2 separate regions of the Homo sapiens genome follow, and region 2 is linked to region 1. The links come from fine-mapping of genetic effects on plasma protein levels. A gene starts in region 1. The other region holds a variant in brackets. All regions are shown on one strand. Distances are from middle to middle.

Region 1 (9,634 bases):
CATGGACACACCTGTTGGCTTTTCCAGGCACTCCTATGTCCTTGGGGATGGGTTCAATTGTCTCAAGTGCATCCATGTGGCCCGCGGTGGCTCCCGCCTGTAACCCCAGCATTTTCGGAGGCGGAGGTGGGAGAATCACTTGAGGCCAGGAGTTTGAGACCAGCCTGGACAACATAGCTAGACTCCCACTTCTTTAAAAAAAATTAGCCAGGTGTGGTGGTGTGAACCTGTAATCCCATCTACTCGGGAGGCGGAGGCAAGAGGATCGCCTGAGCCCAGGAGGTCGAGGCTGCAATGAGTCATGATCGTACCACTGCCCTCCAGCCTGGGTGATAGAGCGAGACCCTGTCTCAAAAAAACAAAAACAAACAACAACAACAACAAATCAAGTGCATGCATGAGCGGTGGACATAGTACCTTAGGGTCATGTACACTCATGGATACATGCTCAATGGCATAGATACACTCACGGGCACAATTACACACGTGGGTACACGCTTAGGGCTTGTATATATCCGTGGTCCCAGGTACACTCAGGGAGATGTTGTATGCTCAGGGGCACCCACTCTGGGACACAGGGAAGACACAGGGAATGAGTTACTCATTCACAGATGCACAGGTACTCACGCAGGGCACTCAGTCTCGCCCACCCTGGTGCCCCGGGGTCATTGTCACGTGCAGACTCTCCCTCTCCCCAGGTCCCAAAACCCCTCCCCTTGCCCCAGTAACAGGTCCCATAGCGACGCTGTTTTCCCTTGACTTTATTTATCTTCATAAGTCACAAAATGTGAGTGCAGAGATAAATGTCTGTGTGCATGTGCCCTGAGCACACAGGGTGGCATAACTCGGCACACTCATAATGACACAGCCGTTCACCCAGCCACAGATAGTGACAGGGCACACATGGCGACACCCACATGTACGGAGATAAATCTCCCCCACCATGACATGGGTAGACAGAAAACACGCCGCAGTATACTCTAGTATGTTTACACAAACAGGGAGACAGGCCCGTGCAATGCATGTCACCAACACCCACACTCAGAGTGACATCTGCTGGAGGTGCTCAGACACAGCCACCCACCGTGACATGCCGAGACTCACATATGTCACATGACACAGGCATGCATGCCACATTCACTGTGACTCTCAGTCCTATTCATTCATCACCTTTCTGGGAGATACACTGAAATGTCCACCCTTTGCAAAATGCACACACACGCGCACGCACACACGCACATACACGAACACACGCGCACACACGCACACACACGCACGCAGGTGTACACACACACGAGCAACTCCGAGACACTCATTCACCATGACTCGAGGTTTTTCTATACGTGGGACGAGGGGCAGGTTCACACTAGGCTGGGGGGGGGGGGTCATTTCCCGTCTTCGTTGGCAGGTGCAGCCCCATCTTCCAAGTTGTGGCTTTGGCTGCCACAATGTCCTCTCATTTATTGAGGTGAGGACTCTGGGGATGGGGAGAGACCCACAGTGAGGCAGATCCCGCCCCTGGGAGAGGAGCTGGGGCTAAATCTGAAGCCCCACCCACCCTCCTCCACCTCCTGTCGGGGCGCCAACTTACGTGGCATTTTCTGCAGCACCTCCAAGATTTTCTGTACCTTTGTGTCAATGTTTTTTATGCCTAGGGGGCGGGGAGGGTTGGGTGGGAACAGATAAGTCAAGCTGCGGTGGAGCCTCAAACAAAGCCCCCACCTTCCTTGGAAGCACCCCCCCTGCCCCACACCCACCCTGGGGTACAGCAGAGCCCATGGATTTGGGGTTCCCAGGAGCCTTTCAATACCCACAGAGCAACCCAGATGGTAACACCCATCGCCCCTCCACAACTTGAGCTTTGGGAGGGTAGGACCCCGGCTTTCTCCTCCCCTGAATCCCCTGCCCCCAGCTCAGCTCCGGGCATTGGTGACAAATAACCCCCATAGAAGGCGAGACTACACAGGCACCTGCTAATGTCGTCTCTAATCTATCAATCTTGCTCCTGACCATGGTGATGCTCTGCTGAACGGAATCCCAGCCTCTCTTCTGTCTCTCTTCGCATGCTTGTACGGAGTTTGAGACTGAGGGCATGAAACAGGGGTGTCTGTGCATCCATCCCTCTCCAGACCCCCACCATGACCCCACGGGTCTCCCTCAGACCCTCCGCTCACCATTCCAAAGCTCCCTTTTAAAGCCCAGCAGCTCCTTGGACATCTCAGCATCTGTTCAGGAGGGGCAGGAAAATCCTTGAAGCACCCAGGGAGAGAGAGAGAGAAGGACAAGGGAGAAAGTCTAGGCCCCCCAGCACCCTCCTCCCAAGAAGTACTCACTCTTCACCATGATGAAGGCTGACAGGATGATGCAGAGGACAAAGGCCAGGGCCAGGAGGATGTACAGGCTCAGGATGGCTCTGTACAACCAGCAGGGGACCTGGGTGGAGTCTGAGGGCGGCCTGCACTGGGCTGGGACTGGAGCAAAGAGGCAGCAAAGTGACCTTGAGGGGCCAGCACCACCACTCAAACCATCCTCACTGTCTCTAACACCATGGACACCTCGCTCCTCTCAAAACCATCAGCAGCTGTGGTCATGCAGCTTGTCATCATCGTCAACAACACTGCCACCACCAGCCACCCTCAGCGATCTAACACCGTCACCATCACAGACCCCCTCTCCAGCATTCCCCAACATTGTCATCATCAACAGACCTCATTAGCACGTCAACAGCTGTCACCTCTTCCTTCCCCATCGCTTCCTCCCTTCCACGCAGCCCCGGGGGCCCTGCAGTTGCCCGCCCACCTGCCCCTTCCCAAGGTGATGGGATGTGAGCAGGTGGGTGTCTGCTCACCTTGGCTCGTGGGTCGTGAATGACCACCCTTTGCATGGTCCTGATTTTTGAAGGCCAAGGTGATATTCTCATAGTCTGGGTCATGGGCACCTGGGAGGGGTTGGAGATCTGCTCAGAGCTCTGTGGTGTGGAGAGTGGATCCGGGATCTTGTTTTACCCAACCCTTTGCACTCAATAAATTGTAGGGGGTGAAAGATAAGGAGTGAGAAGCTAAAATCTGCTTTTTGGTTAAGTGGAGCGGGTGTGTGAGAGTTTGAGTGATCACACCACACACACATCCACACACACATCCACACATCTTGGAGGGGAAGGAGCCCCCGGCCCCCACCTTTGACCCCTTACCTCTCCCATCTGAACTCTCCTTCTTTTTTTATTTTTATTTTTTACAGACAGAGTCTCCCTATGTTGCCCAGGCCAGTCTCCACCTCCAGGGCTCACGCAATCCTCCCGCCTCAGCCTCCCAAAGTGCTAGGATTACAGACATGAGCAAAAGCCCCCGGCCCCCCAATCTCTCCTTCTTAACCCCTCCCTTCCACCTCGAGTTCCCTAACCTTGATTCTTGGCTGAGACCCCCTGTTTCTTGTCCCTGAAGGCTGGTGCTTGCATCTTGACTTCCTGGTGCTTGTAGATTTCCTCCACTTCCATGGTCCCCAGCCCGCAAATTTGTCCATACACGTCCCCGCCCACCGGAAGGTGTGGGCAGATGAGGAAATCTGGAGGTGGGGGGAAGAAAGAGGGGGAGCAGCCTCCTCTTTTCAGGGATCCACGACTCTCGCACCCTGGGGCACCCTCATTCCTGCCCCGATCAAGAGGCTCTTGGGAGCCAAGAGGTCTCAGGAAGGACCAAGAAGAAAAACCTCTAGACCGGGAGATGGAATTCGACACTCGGAAATGTTACAGGAAGCTGTGGTCTCTGTGTGTGTCTGTGTCTACCTGGATGGACCTCACCCTCCTACCTCCTCTCCATTTCAAAAGAGAAGCTGTGACACCTCAGTGTCCCAACTTTTCGCGTAAGAGCAACCAGGCTTGGAGACAGGACCCCTGGGTCCCCCCACACCTTCCTCCCTCCAGCCTCAGCTCCACCCCTCAGCTCCACCCCCAAGAAGTTCTTCTACTTCTACAAGTCCCCGTGGAGGAAAAGCACAGATGTGAGGCAACGGGAACTAACCACTGGAACGCCACACCCACATCTGGGACTGAGGACAGACCCACATCCTTCCCTCCCTCCCCAAATCCCCTGCTTTTATACAACCCTGGAGGAGGCTGGGTGCGGTGGCTCACGCCTGTAATCCCAGCACTCTGGGAGGCTGAGGTGGGTGGATCATCTGAGGTCAGGAGTTTGAAACCAGCCTGGCTAACATGGTGAAACCCCGTCTCTACTAAAAATACAAAAATTAGCTGGGCGTGGTGGCGAGCGCCTGTAATCCTAGCTACTCAGGAGGCTGAGGCAGGAGAATCGCTTAAACCTGGGAGGCGGAGGCTGCAGTGAGCGGAGATCACACCATTGCACTCCAGAATGGGTGACAAGAGGGAAACTCTGTCTCAAAAAAGAACCCTGGAGGAACAGTTTCCTCTGCACCTGGAAACTCCAGGTTTCTCATTCTCATCCATCCATCTGCTTATCTACCCAGATACTCTCTCTCACACATGTACACACACAGGTCTGCACACGGACACACATCACAAACTCATTTGCATACTATTTGCATTGTGACACTCAGAAAAATAGACACAAGCATGCGTTCACATGCCCGCACTCTGTCTAGAAGGTGTCTTAGTTCACTTTGTGTTTATCTGATCTTGAAAACTGGGGTTACAAAAGGCACAAAGTAGCTGGGTATGGTGGCTCGCTCTGTAGTCCCAGCTACCCAGGAGGCTGAGGTAGGAGGATCATTTGAGGCCAGGAGTTTGAGACCAGCGTGAGCAACATAGCAAGACCCTGTCTCTTTAAATGTTTTTTAATAATTTTTTTTTGAGACAGGGTTTCACTCTGTTGCCCAGGCCGGGGTGCAGCAGCGTGATCATGGCTCACTGCAGCTTTGACCTCCCTGGCTCAAGTAATCCTTCGTCCTCGGCTTCCCGAGTAGCTGAAATTACAGGTGGGCACGACTTCACCTGGCTAATTTTTCTCCTTTTTTGAGATGGAGTTTTGTGCTTGTCACCCAGGCTGGAGTGCAATGACGCTATCTCAGCTCACTGCAACCTCCGCATCCCAGGTTCAAGTCATTCTCCTGCCTCAGCCTCCCAAGTAGCTGGGATTACAGGCATGCACCACCACCCCCGGCTAATTTTGTATTTTTAGTAGAGACGGGGTTTCCCCATGTTGGTCAGGCTGGTCTCGAACTCCTGACTTCACGTGATCTACCCGCCTTGGCCTCCCAAAGTGCTGGGATTACAAGCATCAGCCACCGTGGCCCAGTCTAATTTTTCTTATTTTTTGTAGAGATGAGGGTCTCAATATGCCGTCCAGGCTGGTCTTGATCTCCTGGGTTCAACTGATCCTCCAGCCTTGGTCTCCCAAAGTGCTGGGATTACAGGCATACATTTTTATTTTTATTTTTTTCTGGCCAGGTGTGGTGGCTCACGCCTGTAATCACAGCACTTTGGGAGTCTGAGGCGGGCGGATCACCTGAGGTCAGGAGTTAGAGACACCAGCCTGACCAATATGATAAAACCCTGTCTCTACTAAAAATGCAAAAATTAACTGGGCGTGGTGGCAGGCGCCTGTAATCTCAGCCACTCGGGAGGCTGAGACAGGAGAATCACTTGAACCCGGGAGGTGGAGGTTGCAGTGAGCCGAGATCGCGCCATTGCACTCCAGCCTGGGCAACAAGAGCAAAACTCCGTCAAAAAAAAAAAAAAAAAAAGAAAAAAGAAGAAAGAAGAAAGAAGGAAGGAAGGAAGAAGAAAAGAAGAAAAAACAAGTATAAGACTGTCTTATGTGCAGAAAGTGATGATGTTTTGGTTAAAAATATGTGGTTAAATTTCAGACAACTTGAATGTTGAGAAATGAGCGTCGAGATCTGGTGAGGATAAAGTTCTGTTTCCTAAAATATTGCCAAATCCTGTGTCTCCAAGAAAGATCAATTTGATAATGACTTCATGCCAGCTGCTCCATTTGGTCTTAGAAAGAAGTCAGTTACTGAGCTATAGGACCGCCTTCTAATGGAGCAGACGGACCAATTGGATGTGGGCTCTGCCTTGATGGACAGGCACAGGGGGTGGAGCCACAGCGTTGCACATTTCCCGGGCTTGGGTGGGGCTGAGACGCGGCTCCAGGCTCTGGACTTCCTTTGAGAAAAAGGTCACGCTAAACCAGAGGCCCACAAGCAATCATGTCATGTGGGAAACATCTGCAAAGCTGCCTGACCAGCACCCGTCCCTTTCATAGGGTAACATTCTCAATTTTCTTTTAAGAAAGAAAATGTGTGCTAGATCCAGCAAACCATAAGCTAGGGATTGGTTTACAGTGGACAAATGATCCAGACCCAGCCAACCAGAGTCTAAGATTGGGCAGAGAGGCGGGCATTTGAGCAAGATCCAGCCAATGAAACGCTGGTCTGGGATTTTTATTGGTTTAACCACGGGGGAAAAAGCATTCTCTTTTTTTTCCAGCCCTCACTAGGGCTGCCACAATGGGAGGATGTAATGGGAGCTGTGACAGGGAAGAATTTACTTGAGAGCAAAGGCAGTGCTGAGAAAATCAGACCCGAGAGGAAGTCTGGGTCCTGGAGACATCATTTGAGACCCTGGTTCCAAGCCATACCTGAACCTGTTGTTCTAACCCTGGGCTTGTCAGTTACACAAACAAGAAACTTCCTTTTAGTTTTGCCCAAGCTAGTTTGAAGTGGGGTCTGTTGTACTTGCAAGCAGAAGAATCTTGCCTTGGCTGGTCTCTGTGGCCCACGCCTGTAATCCCAGCACTTTGGAAGGCCGAGGCAGGTGAATCACTTAAGGTCAGGAATTTGAGACCAGCCTGGCCAAAATGGCGAAATCCCCGTGTCTACTAAAAATACAAAAATTAGCCAGGAGTGGTGGTGGGCGCCTGCAATCCCAACTACTCAGGAGGCTGAAGCAGGAGAATCACTTGAACCTGGAGGTGGAGGTTGCAGTGAGCTGAGATCGTGCCACTGCACTCCAGCCTGGACAACAGAGTGAGACTCCATCTCAAAAAGGAAGAAGAAGAAGGAGGAGGAGGAGAAGGATGAGGAGGAGGAAGGAGGGAGGGAGGAGGGAGGAGGGAGGAGGATATCTTGCCTACCACAGGGGATCTAGGCATTAGCTATTGAGGAAATTGAGGCTCTAATAGGGGGTTTGCCTGTCCACATCACCTGGGCAGATATGACCTCCAAGTCTGCACTCTGGGGCAGGAGAATGTCTATGTTGGAATTGAGGAACCTGAAGAGAGCCCTCTTAGGTTTCAGATACAGGACTATTGGATGGGGGTGGAGACAAATAGTTCTGGGGACAATGGAGCATCCCCGCCCCCAACACACACACACAGCAGTAAGGGGCAGGGACACACACAAGGCACTAGACTCACCCTCTCTGGCCCTGGCCATGCTTCTAACTCAGTGGTCCTGCCCTACCCCCATGACCACTGTGGAGTCAGGAGAGAGGGTCTGGGAAGGGAATCCCTGGGCTGGAGTCTGGGTGGGGTCCCTGGCACCAGAAGTGGTTGTAATCTCTGCTCATGGCCACCAGCATCAGACAGGGGGCTGGGACCATCACAGGGGGTGGGTGGCAGTGGGAGGAGAGTCCAAAACATCCTGCAAACCAGAACCTCACTCTATCATCTGTTGTCCAGGTGTGACATTTGAGTCTGGGATCCCTTTCAAGACTAGGTGCTAGGAATTCTGAAGTCTGTGGTGGGAAATCAGGGACTGGATGGCAAGACTCCTGGGTCAGGCTTCCTGTAGAACTGGACCCCGAATCACCTGAATTTGTGCCCCAGGGAGCTGAGGCGGGGGATGCTGAGGCTTTTGCCCACTAGAACAGGGGTCCCCAGCCACCGGGCATTGGGAACGGGGCCTCACAGCAGGAGGTGAGTGGTGGGCGAGCGAGAGAAGCTTCATCTGTATTTACAGCCACTCCCCATCATTCGCATTACCACCTGAGCTCCACCTCCTGTCAGACCAGCAGCAGCATTAGATTCTCATAGGAGCAAGAATCCCATCGTGAACTGCGCATTTGAGGGATGTAGCTTTCTCACTTCTTATAAGAATCAAATGCCTGGTAATCTGTCGCTGTCTCCCATCACCCTCAGCTGGGACCATCTAGTTGCAGGAACACAAGCTCAGGGCTCCCACCGATTCCACATTATGGTGAGTTGTAGAATTATTTTATTCTATATTACAATGTCATAATAATAAAAATAAAGTGAATAATAAATGTAATGCGCTTGAATCACCCAGAAACCATCCCCGCTCCCCCCCTACCCCATACACACACCAACTGTCTTCCATGAAAACAGTCTCTGGTGCCAAAAAGGTTGGGGATCGCTGCACTAGGGTATCAGATACTTATCCAGGTGCAGTGGGGACTAGAGTCAGAAATGCAAGAGTCTGCCTGGAGCATGTGTGTGTTTGTGTCCTGCATCATCTCTGCCCACCATAGTCAAATCTGCGATTCTCCGTGCATTGGCCGGGGGGGTGGTGCCTTTCTGTGTCCAAGAGTGTCTAGGGGCACATGGGTGTGTCTGTGGATGTGGTGTCTCCATGTGGCCGTGGTAGGTGGGTTGTGTACTCTGTGTGTGCACGTGGCTGTGTATAGCTGTGTGTGCATGTGCAGTATGTGCACGTCGGTGCTGTATCTAAGTGCACATGTGGCTACTGATCAACAGACATTTACTGAACGTCTACTGTGTTCCATGCTCTATTCTAAACCCTGGGGGCGCTGGGTGCAGTGGCTCATGCCTGTAATCCCAGCACTTTGGAAGGCCGAGGTGGGTGGATCACCTGAGGTCAGGAGTTTGAGACTAGCCTGGCCAACATGGTGAAACCCGCTCTCTACTAAAAATACAAATTAGCTGGGCATGGTGGTGGGCACCTGTAATCTCAGCTACTTGAGAGGCTAAGGCAGGAATATCACTTGAACCCAGGAGGCAGAGGTTGCAGTGAGCCGAGATTGTGCCACTGCACTCCAGCCTGGGCGCCAGAGTAAGACCTTGTCTCGAAAATAAAAATTAAAAAATAGGCCAGGCGCGGTGGCTCATGCATGTAATCCCAGCACTTTGGGAGGCTGAGGCGGGTGAATCGCTTGAGGCCAGGAGCTCAAGACCAACCTAGCCAACATGGTGAAACTCCTTCTCTACTAAAAATACAAAAATTAGCCAGGTATGGTGGCGAGCGCCTGTAGTCCCAGCTACGTGGGAGGCTGAGGCAGGAGAATCGCTTGAACCCAGGAGGCAGAGGTTGCGGTGAGCCGAGATTGCACCACTGCACTCCAGCCTGGGCAACAGAGCGAGACCCTGTCTCAAAAAAAAAAAAAGAAAGAAAGAAAGAAAAGAGAAGAGGGGAGAGGAGGGGAGGGGAGGGGAGGGGAGGGGAGGGGAGGGGAAGGGAAGGGAAGAAACGAAACCCTGGGGGGGATCTAGGAGCAGACAAGTCCCCTGCTCTGTGTTTTCATAATCTAGTATCCAGGAAGGGGTAAGCACCCTGCGTGTATCTGGTTGTAACTAACTACTCACAACTGCACTTGCCTGTGTGAAAACGTGAGCTTGTGATGATGCGTGACGTCAGGTAGGCGTCCCTGACTCTCCGTAACCCAACTTTGCCTGTGCCTTGG
Region 2 (9,634 bases), 21 kb after region 1:
CTCAAGCGATCCTCCTGCCTCAGCCTCCTGAGTAGCTAGGACTACAGGCACCCACCACCACCCACAGTTAATTGAAAAAATTGATTCTTCTTTGTAGAGACAGGGTCTCATATGTTGCCAGGATCCTTGGTCTTTGACCTCCCAAAGTGCAGAGATTACAGGCATGCACCACTAATGCCGGGCCAAATACTTGTAATTTAAATTATCGCTGGGCTGGGCACGGTGGCTCACGCCTGTAACCCAGCACTTTGGGAGGCCGAGGGGGGAAGTTCACCTGAGGTCAGGAGTTCCAGACCAGCCTGGCCAACATGCTGAAACCCTGTCTCAACTAAAAATACAAAAATCAGCCGGACATTGTGGCAGACGCCTGTAATCCCAGCTAATCGGGAGGCTAAGACAGGAGAATCGCTTGAACCCGGGAGGCAGAGGTTGCAGTGAGCCGAGATCGCACCATTGTGCTCCAACCTGGGCAACAAGAGCGAAACTCCATCTCAAAAAATAATAATAAAATAAATTATAGTTGGAAAAAAGGGGTTTCCTAAAGACCCAAGGGAAATGGCCTCTTTGTTCCTGAAGCCACAGAGAGGATTTTTCTGCTCCCCACAACTAGTTTTCCTTGTGAAAATTCATAATTGCTACCAGCTTGTTCTCCTCTCTGTCACTATACATCTGTCCTTGAAGCCTTATTTGAACAAAGAGTTCTGGTATCACTCGGATGCCTAGAAACTGTTGCCGTTCTGTGAAACCGACCACCAGAGGAAACCCATGCTTCTCATTGGCTGCCTTACTAAGATGGTGACTTGTTGCCCTGGTGACAAGTTGCAATGACAGGTGGCTCTGCCAAATCAGAACACAGTGATACTTGCTTCCCCTCCCGGGTGAAGGATGGAAAATAAAAGTAAAAGCCTTGGCGGCTGTCAGGCTTCTTTACCAAAGAGCTGGAGAGCACTCCTTGGCCCCATTTATGCAAACACTTCCCATCTACAGATGATCCAGCTTCGGAGTGGGAGTCTAAGCAGCTGCCAGGACCACCGCTTGGCAGAGGACAGGCTGGGGGCTCTGGCATGACCTGCTGGGGCCAGGCTGTGACTTGGAGCAAGAGGTAGCAAGAACCTCGAGGCAGTGAACATCAAAAGAGAGATTTCCGGGGCTAAACACCCTAGGTTTTTCCTTCCTCCTGAACCCTAACCCTAACCCTCTCGGCTCACTGCAACCTCCACCTCCCGAGTGCAAGCAATTCTCATGCCTCAGCCTCCCGAGTAGCTGGGATCACAGGCGTGCGCCACCACGCCCGGCTAACTTTGTATTTTTATTAGAGACGGGGGTTTCTCCACGTTGGTCAGGCTGGTGTCAAACTCTCGAACTCAGGTGATCTGCCCGCCTTGGCCTCCAAAAGTGCTGGGATTACAGGCGTGCGCCACCGTGCCCAGCTTATTTTTGTATTTTTAGTAGAGGTGGGGTTTCACCCTGTTGGCCAGGCTGGTCTTGAACTCCTGAACTCAAGTGATCTGCCTGCCTCAGCCTGCCAAAATGCTGGGGTTACAGGCGCCAGGCCAAGTATCTTATTTTAAAAGGTTACAAAGAATATAGATGTGGATAAAATAAAAGTTTCTTTGCATTACCACTTTCCTGCAAGAAATGAGGGGGAGGGGCTTATGAAACAACTCACACCCCCCCAATTGAGGAACTGTAGATGAAAGGGAAGGTGCTGACAGGCCCGTCTGGCCACGGTTTCCTGGAATAAAACTGAGCCACACACCTCCACAAATCCCCAGCCTCCGGCAAGTACCCCAGAAGTACTCACACTCCACCACCTTCTGTGATCGCAACAGCCCTACGCAACATTACAGAGGGCAAAACCCACGCTGGGGAAGGCGGGGCTACTGTCAAAAGGTCACCAGGGCCAGGCACAGTGGCTCACGCCTATAATCCCAGCTCCTTGGGAGACCAAGGCAGGAGGATCCGTTGAGCTCAAGAGTTTGAGTTCAGCCTGGGCAACACAGGAAAACCCCCGTCTTTACAAAAACTTTTTAAAAATTAGCTGGGTGTGGTGGCATGCCCGTGTAATCCCAGCCACTACTTAGGAGGCCGAAGGGGGAGGATCTATTGCTTCAGCCCGGGAGTTTGTGGCTGCAGTGAGCTATGATTGCACCACTGCACTCCAGCCTAAGTGACAGACAGAGACTCTTAAAAAAAAAAAAAAAAGGGCAGGGCACGGTGGCTTATGTCTGTAATCCTAGCACTTTGGGAGGCCGAGGCGGGCAGATCATCTGGCGTCAGGAGTTCGAGGCCAACCTGGCCAATATGGTGAAACCCTGTCTCTACCAAAAGTACAAAACTTAGCTGGGTGTGATGGTGGGCACCTGTAATCCCAGCTACTCGGGAGGCTGAGGTGGGAGAATCGCTTGAATCTGGGAGGTGGAGTTTGCAGTGAGCCAAGATTGCGCCACTGCACTCCAGCCTGGGTGACAGAATGAGACTCTGTCTCAAAAAAAAAAAAAAAAAGTGGGGCACCTATATTCCCAGCACTTTGGGAAGCTGAGGCAGGAGGATGGCTTGAGGCCAAAAATTCAAAACCCGGCCTGGGCAACATAGCAAGACCCCATCTCTATGAAAAAAAAAAAAAAAAAGTCACCAGGCCAGCTAGCCTAGATTTCAGAGCCAGAATTTGTCTGATGCCATTGTCTTTACTTTTTCTTTTTCTTTTTTTTTTTTTTGAGACAGAGTCTCACTCTGTCACCCAAGCTGCAGGGCAGTGGGACAATCTCAGCTCACTGCAACCTCTGCCTCCCAGGCTCAAGCGATTCTCCTGCCTCAGCCTCCTGAGTAGCTGGGATTACAGACATCCACCACCATTTCCAGCTAATTTTTGTATTTTTAGTAGAGGTGAGGTTTCACCTTTTTGGTCAGGCTGGTCTCCAACTCCCAAGCTCAGGTGATCTGCCCACCTCAGCCTCCCAAAGTGCTGGGATTACAGTTGCGAGCCACCACGCCTGGACTGCTCTTCATTCTTTTTTCAGAACTTTCCCAGCTGCCAACAGAGACAGAAACTGAATCATCTCAGAAGTGAATGAAGGAGGCTGAGGGCGGGTGGACTGCTTGATTAGGAGTTCGAGATTTGCCTAGGCAACATGGAAAAAGCCTGTCTCTGCTAAAAATACAAAAATTAGCCGGGCGTGGTGGCACATGCCTGTAATGCCAGCTGCTTGGGAGGCTGAGGCAGGAGAATCACTTGAACCCGGGAGGCAGAGGCTGCAGCGAGCCGAGATCGCGCCACTGCACTCCAGCCTAGGTAACAGGGCGAGACTCCGCCTCAAAAAAAAAAGAAGGGAATGAAGGACACCCAAAATGGAGCCTCTGTCTGCCAGGGCTTTGCTATCCTGGCCTGCCTATCCCAGCCCTGGACACCTCATCTCTGATCCCACCAGAGCGGAACCTTCCCATTCGCAGGGCCATTTCCTTACCCAGAAACCTTTTCACAATGTTCTTGGCAGCAGCTGTTGGTCAACTGTGTTTTAAGGTTTTTGAGCAACTTTACAGAAAATAAAAGGGAAGCTACCCTCAATGTCTGGGTCTCCCCCTGGGTGGCCTCTCTTTGTCACCTTACTCATTTCCACGAGATTTCCTTGCTTCGTTGAGTTACATCACCTCCTTTTCCTGTCTGGGTCCAGGACGCCTCCTCTGCAGGTCTCCAGCACTGATTCCTTTGTCCCCGATTTCTCTGCTAGGGTCGCTGGCTTCACCATCCCACCACCACTGCTGCTGGCCCAGCCCGCAGCTTTAATTTCTCTGGACCCTCACGTTTTTGTTATTTGTGTTTTTTTTGGAGATGAGGTCTTGCTCTGTCACCCAGGCTGGAGTGCAGTGGTGCAATCACAGCTCACTGTAGCCTCCACCTCCCAGACTCAAGTGATCTTCCTGCCTCAGCCTCCCAAGTAGCTGGGTGTGTGCCACCAGGTGCAGCTACATTTTTTGTAGAGGCAGGGGTCTTGCTATATTGCCCAGGCTGGTCTCAAACTCCCAGCTTTAGATGATCCTTTCACCTCGGCCTCCCAGAGTGCTGGGATTACCAGCATGAGCCACTGCACCCGTCCTCTCATGTATTTTTTATTAATCGATTTATCTATTTACTTATTTTGAGACAGAGTCTTGCTGTACCACCCAGGCTGGAGTGCAGTGGCATGATCTCGGCCCACTGCAACCTCCACTCCCTGGGTTCAAGTGATTCTCCTGCCTCAGCCTCCCGAGTAGCTGGGATTACAGGTGCCCGCCACCATGCCTGGCTAATTTTTGTATTTTTAGTAGTGACGAGGTTTCACCGTGTTGGCCAGGCTGGTCTCGAATTCCTGACCTCAGGTGATCCACCCAACTCGGCCTCCCAAAGTGCTGGGATTACAGGCGTGAGCCACCGCACTCGGCCTCCCTCATGTATTTTTAAGCGGAACAGGTTCAAGATCACAAATGTTTTCCTCTCACTCTTTCAATGAGTTTCTATTCTAGAATCTCCTGCACGCCACAGGAAGGAGAACTCTCACCCTGTAATGCACATAAATACATGAGATCACCATTGTTCTCACCCAGTAATCAGAATCGTTAGTGATAATTAGTAATAAATTTATTTTTACTATATCTAATAAATTAGATAGTAATTACTATGGCAGCCAATCGTTCCTGGGTGCTCCCTAGATGCTTCCAAGGGAGCCACACGTGACCCTCAGGGCTGTGCCCATTCCAGGCTCTTCTGCTGAGCTCATGTAACCGCTTGCCTCAAGGCATTCCACAAATAATACATAAGTCAATGTATCACGTTGTCACTTTC[T/C]GTACAAACCAGCTAGTTCCGGAGGGAAGCAGAAAGCCTTTTTCAGAAGAACCACAGCTAATTCCAGTAGCAGGAATGATAAAGTTGGACATAATCCTCAAGAGAGTAATGAATCAAAAATGGATGGCGGGCCAGGCACGGTGGCTGATGCCTGTAATCCCAGCACTTTAGGAGGATGAGGCAGGTGAATCATTTGAGGTCAGGAGTTCAAGACCAGCTTGGCCACCATGGTGAGACCCCGTCTCTACTAAAAATACAAAAATTAGCCTGGCATGGTGGCTCATGCTTGTAGTCCCAGCTTCTTGGGAGGCTGAGGCAGGAGAATTGATTGAACCCTGGAGGTGGAGATTGCAGTGAGCCAAGATTGCATCACTGCACTCCAGCCTGGGCAACAAGAGCGAAACTCTATCTCAAAAACAAACAAACAAACAATAACAACAACAAAATTGATGGCTGCTAATGACTTTTTTTCTTTTCTTTCCTTTTTTATTTTTATTTTTTATGAGACAGGGTCTCACTCTATCGCCCAAACTGGAGTGCAGTGCCGAGATCATAACTCAGTGCAGCCTCAACCTCTTGGACTCAAGTGATCTTCCCACCTCAGCCTCCCATGTAGCTGGGACTACAAGCAATTGCTGCCACATCTGGCTAATTATTTTATTTTGTTGTATTTTATTTATTTATTTTTTGAGACAGAGTCTTACTCTGTCACCCAGGCTGGAGTGCAATGGCATGATCTCAGCTCACTGCAACCTCCGCCTCCTGGATTCAAGTTATTCTCCTACCTCAGCTTCCTGAGTAGCTGGGATAACAGGTGTGCACCACCACGCCTGGTTAATTTTTGGTTTTTTGGTAGAGACGGGGTTTCATCATGTTGGCCAGGCTGGTCTTGAACTCCTGACCTCAAGTGATCCGCCCATCTCAGCCTCCCAAAGTGCTGGGATTACAGGTATGAGCCACCGTGCCCGGTCTTTATTTTATTTTTAGTAGAGACAGGGTTTTGCTATGTTGCCCAGGCTGGTCTCAAACTCCTGGGCCTAAGTGATCCTCCTGCCTTGGCCTCCCAAAGTGCTGGGAACTACAGGCGTGAGCCACTGGGCCCAGCTCCTGTTAACATCTTTATGTGGAGAGTTACTGGGGACCAGGGACATTCCCCAAACCCACCCATCAATCGTAGTGACATGACGTTATGGACCCCCTGATGTGATGTACCAGGAAGTACCCGGCCCTACCAGCATGATATTATTCTGGCTGCAACTGACCCTTATTCCAATAGAGCATGTGGTTCTAAGCCATTTATAGGGTAAACATTGGGGCAGGGATGGGGAGAGAGGAAGCAACCTGCCAAATCCAGAATGAGGATCATTCCTCGGTACCAGAAGAGAACCAGAAAGAAAGCACCCTAAGTGGGGATACCACAAGGAAGTAAAGCAGGGGCCTCTCCCAGCTGGGGAAGGGAAGGAGGAAGGAGTACAATAGCTTGCAAGGCACAGCATTGCGGATGATGGGAATAGCAGGTGCAAAGGTTCTGGGGCAGGGACAGTGTGGTGTGTTTGAAGAACAGCAGCCAGGTTCACCATGAGATGGGAAATGGACTTGGGGGAAGGGATCTCAAAGGATAATTTTTTTTTTTTTTTTGAGACAGGGTTTCGCTCTTGTTGCCCAGGCTGGAGTGCAGTGGCATGATGGCTCACTGCAACCTCTGCCTTCCGGTTTCAAGCGATTCTCCTGCCTCAGCCTCCCGAGTAGCTGGGATTACAGGCGCCCACCACCACGCCCGGCTAATTTTTGTATTTTTAGTAGAGACAGGGTTTCACCATGTTGGCTAGACTGGTCTTGAACTCCTGACCTCGTGATCCGCCCGCCTCGGCCTCCCAAAGTGCTGGGATTACAGACGTGAGCCACCGCGCCCGGCCCCCCAACTTTTTTTTTGTTTTTAACACAACTTCTCGCTTTCTCACCCAGGCTGGAGGGCAGAGGCACAATCATAGCTCACTGCAGCCTCGAACTCCTAGGCTCCAGCGATCCTCACAGGAGGGTTTTGAGGATCTGCATAAAGCGTGCAGAGGGAGCTTGACTTCGTGCTCGTTAGGACCCGATATTGTCAGCTGCCGCCGCCCACAGGGACACATAAATATTTGTAGACTCAATATTTGCCTTTAGTGTGAAGACATTGCATCACCTGGGTATAAGTAAGGAGCAGAGGCAGAGGCGGTTTAAGCAACAGACTTTTGTCTCCGCTGAGAACCACGGAATAACCCCTGACCTACTTCCCCGTCGTGTCTAATTCGGGTCACCTCATCTCCAGTTACAGACGCGGAAGATCAAAGAAACCGGGAAATTGCGCCGCAGCGCCCCCTGGCGTTCGCAGCGCGTGCCTACACAAGCCACTCCCGGCGCAAAACTGCGGCTTCCCAGGAAATTGAGTTTAAATGTTTTTTTTTCTTTTTTCTTAATCTAGAAAAGATCATTTATTGTATCAAGTAACTACCCAGTTAGGCGTGAATACATTTTAAAATTTTTATTAAAACGAGTATTGGCCGGGCGCGGTGGCTCACTCCTGTAATCCCAGCACTTTGGGAGGCCAAGGCAGGTGGATCACGGCGTCAGGAGTTCGAGACCATCCCGGCCAACATGGTGAAACCCCGTCTCTACTAAAAATACAAAAATTAGCTGGGCGTGGTGGCACGCACCTGTAGTCCCAGCTACTCGGGAGGCTGAGACAGAAGAATCGGTTGAACCGGGGAGGCGGAGGTTGCAGTGAGCTGAGATCATGCCACTGCACTCCAGCCTGGGCGACGGAGCGAGACTCCATCTCCAAAAAATAAATAAATAAATAAATATAATATAATATAAAATAAAATAAAAAGAGTATTGTAGAGATTGGCTGGGCACAGTGGCTCACACCTCTAATTCCTGCATTTTGGGAGGCTGAGGTGGGAGGTCTTCAGCCCAGGAGTTAGAGACCAGCCTGGCCAACATGGCAAAACCCCATCTCTACTAAAAGTACAAAAATTCGCTGGGCATGGTGTCGCACGTCTGTGATCCCAGCTTTTTGGGAGGCTGAGGCAGGAGAATCGCTTGAACCCAGGAGGCAGAGGTTACAGTGAATCGAGATCGCACCACTGCACTCCAGCCTGGGCAACAGAGTGAGACCTTGTCTCAAAAATACATATATTTAGGAATTTGCTATGTTGCCCAGGCTGGCCTCAAACTCCTGGCCTCAAGCAATCCTCCCACCTCGCCCTCCCAAAGTGCTGGGATTGCAGGCGTGAGCCACTGTGCCCGACCTTGAGCTTAAGTTTTAAACATTAAAACCACCTCCCTCCCACTCCCTGCACCTCCCGTAAGTTAAAACGCGTCCCTGCTGAGGCCCTGCAAAGGCATATCCAGGGCAGGCGGACCCCAGGGGTCCACAGCCGACCCACTTTCTTCCCCACACCTCATCCCCTTCACAACTCTCCTCATCCATCTCCCTGCCCTGGTGGGAGATTCCGATAAATCCTAATTGTGGAACTGCTGAATCAGAGGGGGCTGCATTTTCCTTAGCCCCCACCTGCAAATTGTGTGTGCAGTTTTTCTGGGATGAGTGTCCTTAGATTTCCCTGAATTCTCAAAAGGATCTGTGACCTCAAAATCAGGAGAGAGGCCGGGCACGGTGGCTCACGCCTGTCATCCCAGTACTTTGGGAGGCCGAGGTGGGCAGATCGCTTGAGCCCAGGAGACCAGCCTGGGCAACATAGCCAGACCCAGTCTCTACAAAAAATTAAAAGATTAACTGGGCTTGGTGATGTGCACTCATGGTCCCAGCTACTCAGGAGGCTGAGGTGGGAGGATCGCTTGAGCACAGGCGGTAAGAGAGGCTCTACCTCTGAAGAGGATGCTTCCCCACCCTCTGCCCCCTCCCCAGGCACCCACTCCAGCAGTGAGAATTTCACTGCCAACATGAGACATGGGTCCCTACCTGTCCCAACTCAGACCCTGTCTATGATGTCCTATGGCCTCAGCAGGGACCAAAACCCTCACCATGGCCTCACCAGAACCTCCACGTGGTTCTCAGATTGGGTTGCAGGTCAGTACCCTCCCCTCCAGCTCCTCAGGGGCCTCCTGCATTCTCTGGCCTTGGCTTCTGCTCTGCCCTCCCCTCCCTTCCCTTCGCCCCCTTCATTTTCATTCTCTATGCAAATGCTGCCTCCTCTAGGAAGCCTTCCCTGATTGCCCCCAGTCTGGGTGGATTAGATGTGATATGGGCTCCCACAGCCCCTTTTGCCTCAGATTACTCATGTGGCTGGCTGTATATCTGTGCCCCAGAGAGGTTTCTTTTCCTTTTTCTTTTTTTTTTTTTTTTTTGAGATAGGGTGTCACCTTGCCACCCAGGCTGGAGTGCAGTGGCATGATCATAGCTCATTGCAGTCTCAACCTCCCGGGCTCAAGCAATCCTTCCACCTGAAAGTCCTGAGCAGCTGGGACTACAGGCGTGTGCCATCACGTGCCTGACTAATTTTTCTTATTTTTTGTAGAGATGGGGTCTTGCTATGTTGCCCAGGCTGGTCTTAAACTCCTAGCCTCAAGCGATCTCCCACCTCAGTCTCCTGAGTAAACTGGACCCCAGGTGCAAGACACCATGCCCATAAAAAAATTTTAAAAAAATTTAATTTTAAAATTTTTTTGTAGAGATAGGATCGTGTTATGCCGCCCAGGCTGGTCTCAAACTCCTGGGCCCAAGCGATCCTCCCACCTAGGCCTCCCAAAGCACTGGGATTACAGGTGTAAGCTACCTCGCCCGGCCTCTCCTGTTCTATTGGTGCTGTGAGA

Alleles and levels. Alleles are on the strand shown, and positions count from the first base shown. The strength of an association depends on the size of the effect and on how common the allele is.
With allele T in place of C in region 2, the plasma level of the protein whose gene starts at base 3,485 in region 1 is lower (moderate association).

Evidence for each region. PIP is the chance, under the fine-mapping model, that this variant and not a neighbour inherited with it causes the effect. Protein levels are from antibody-based Olink assays in UK Biobank. Linkage for the fine-mapping came from a reference panel and not from the study's own genotypes, which makes the PIPs less certain.
Region 2: its variant is fine-mapped to the plasma level of the MCEMP1 protein (UK Biobank, PIP above 0.99).

What each region holds. Positions count from the first base shown.
Region 1 is chr19:7,670,941-7,680,574 of GRCh38, reverse strand. It overlaps MCEMP1 (mast cell expressed membrane protein 1), which reads right to left and starts at 3,485. Exons shown (of 7, transcript NM_174918.3): 1 at 3,400-3,485; 2 at 2,849-2,938; 3 at 2,334-2,471; 4 at 2,175-2,225; 5 at 1,971-2,084; 6 at 1,592-1,651; 7 at 746-1,477. The coding sequence starts at 3,454. The coding sequence ends at 1,461. RefSeq lists a silencer at 1-37 and an enhancer at 2,449-2,518.
Region 2 is chr19:7,649,739-7,659,372 of GRCh38, reverse strand. No RefSeq gene overlaps it. Among named protein-coding and RNA genes, the nearest start is that of RETN, 14 kb to the left of the region's middle. RefSeq lists an enhancer at 1,102-1,221. The variant T/C (reference allele first, on the strand shown) is at 4,820.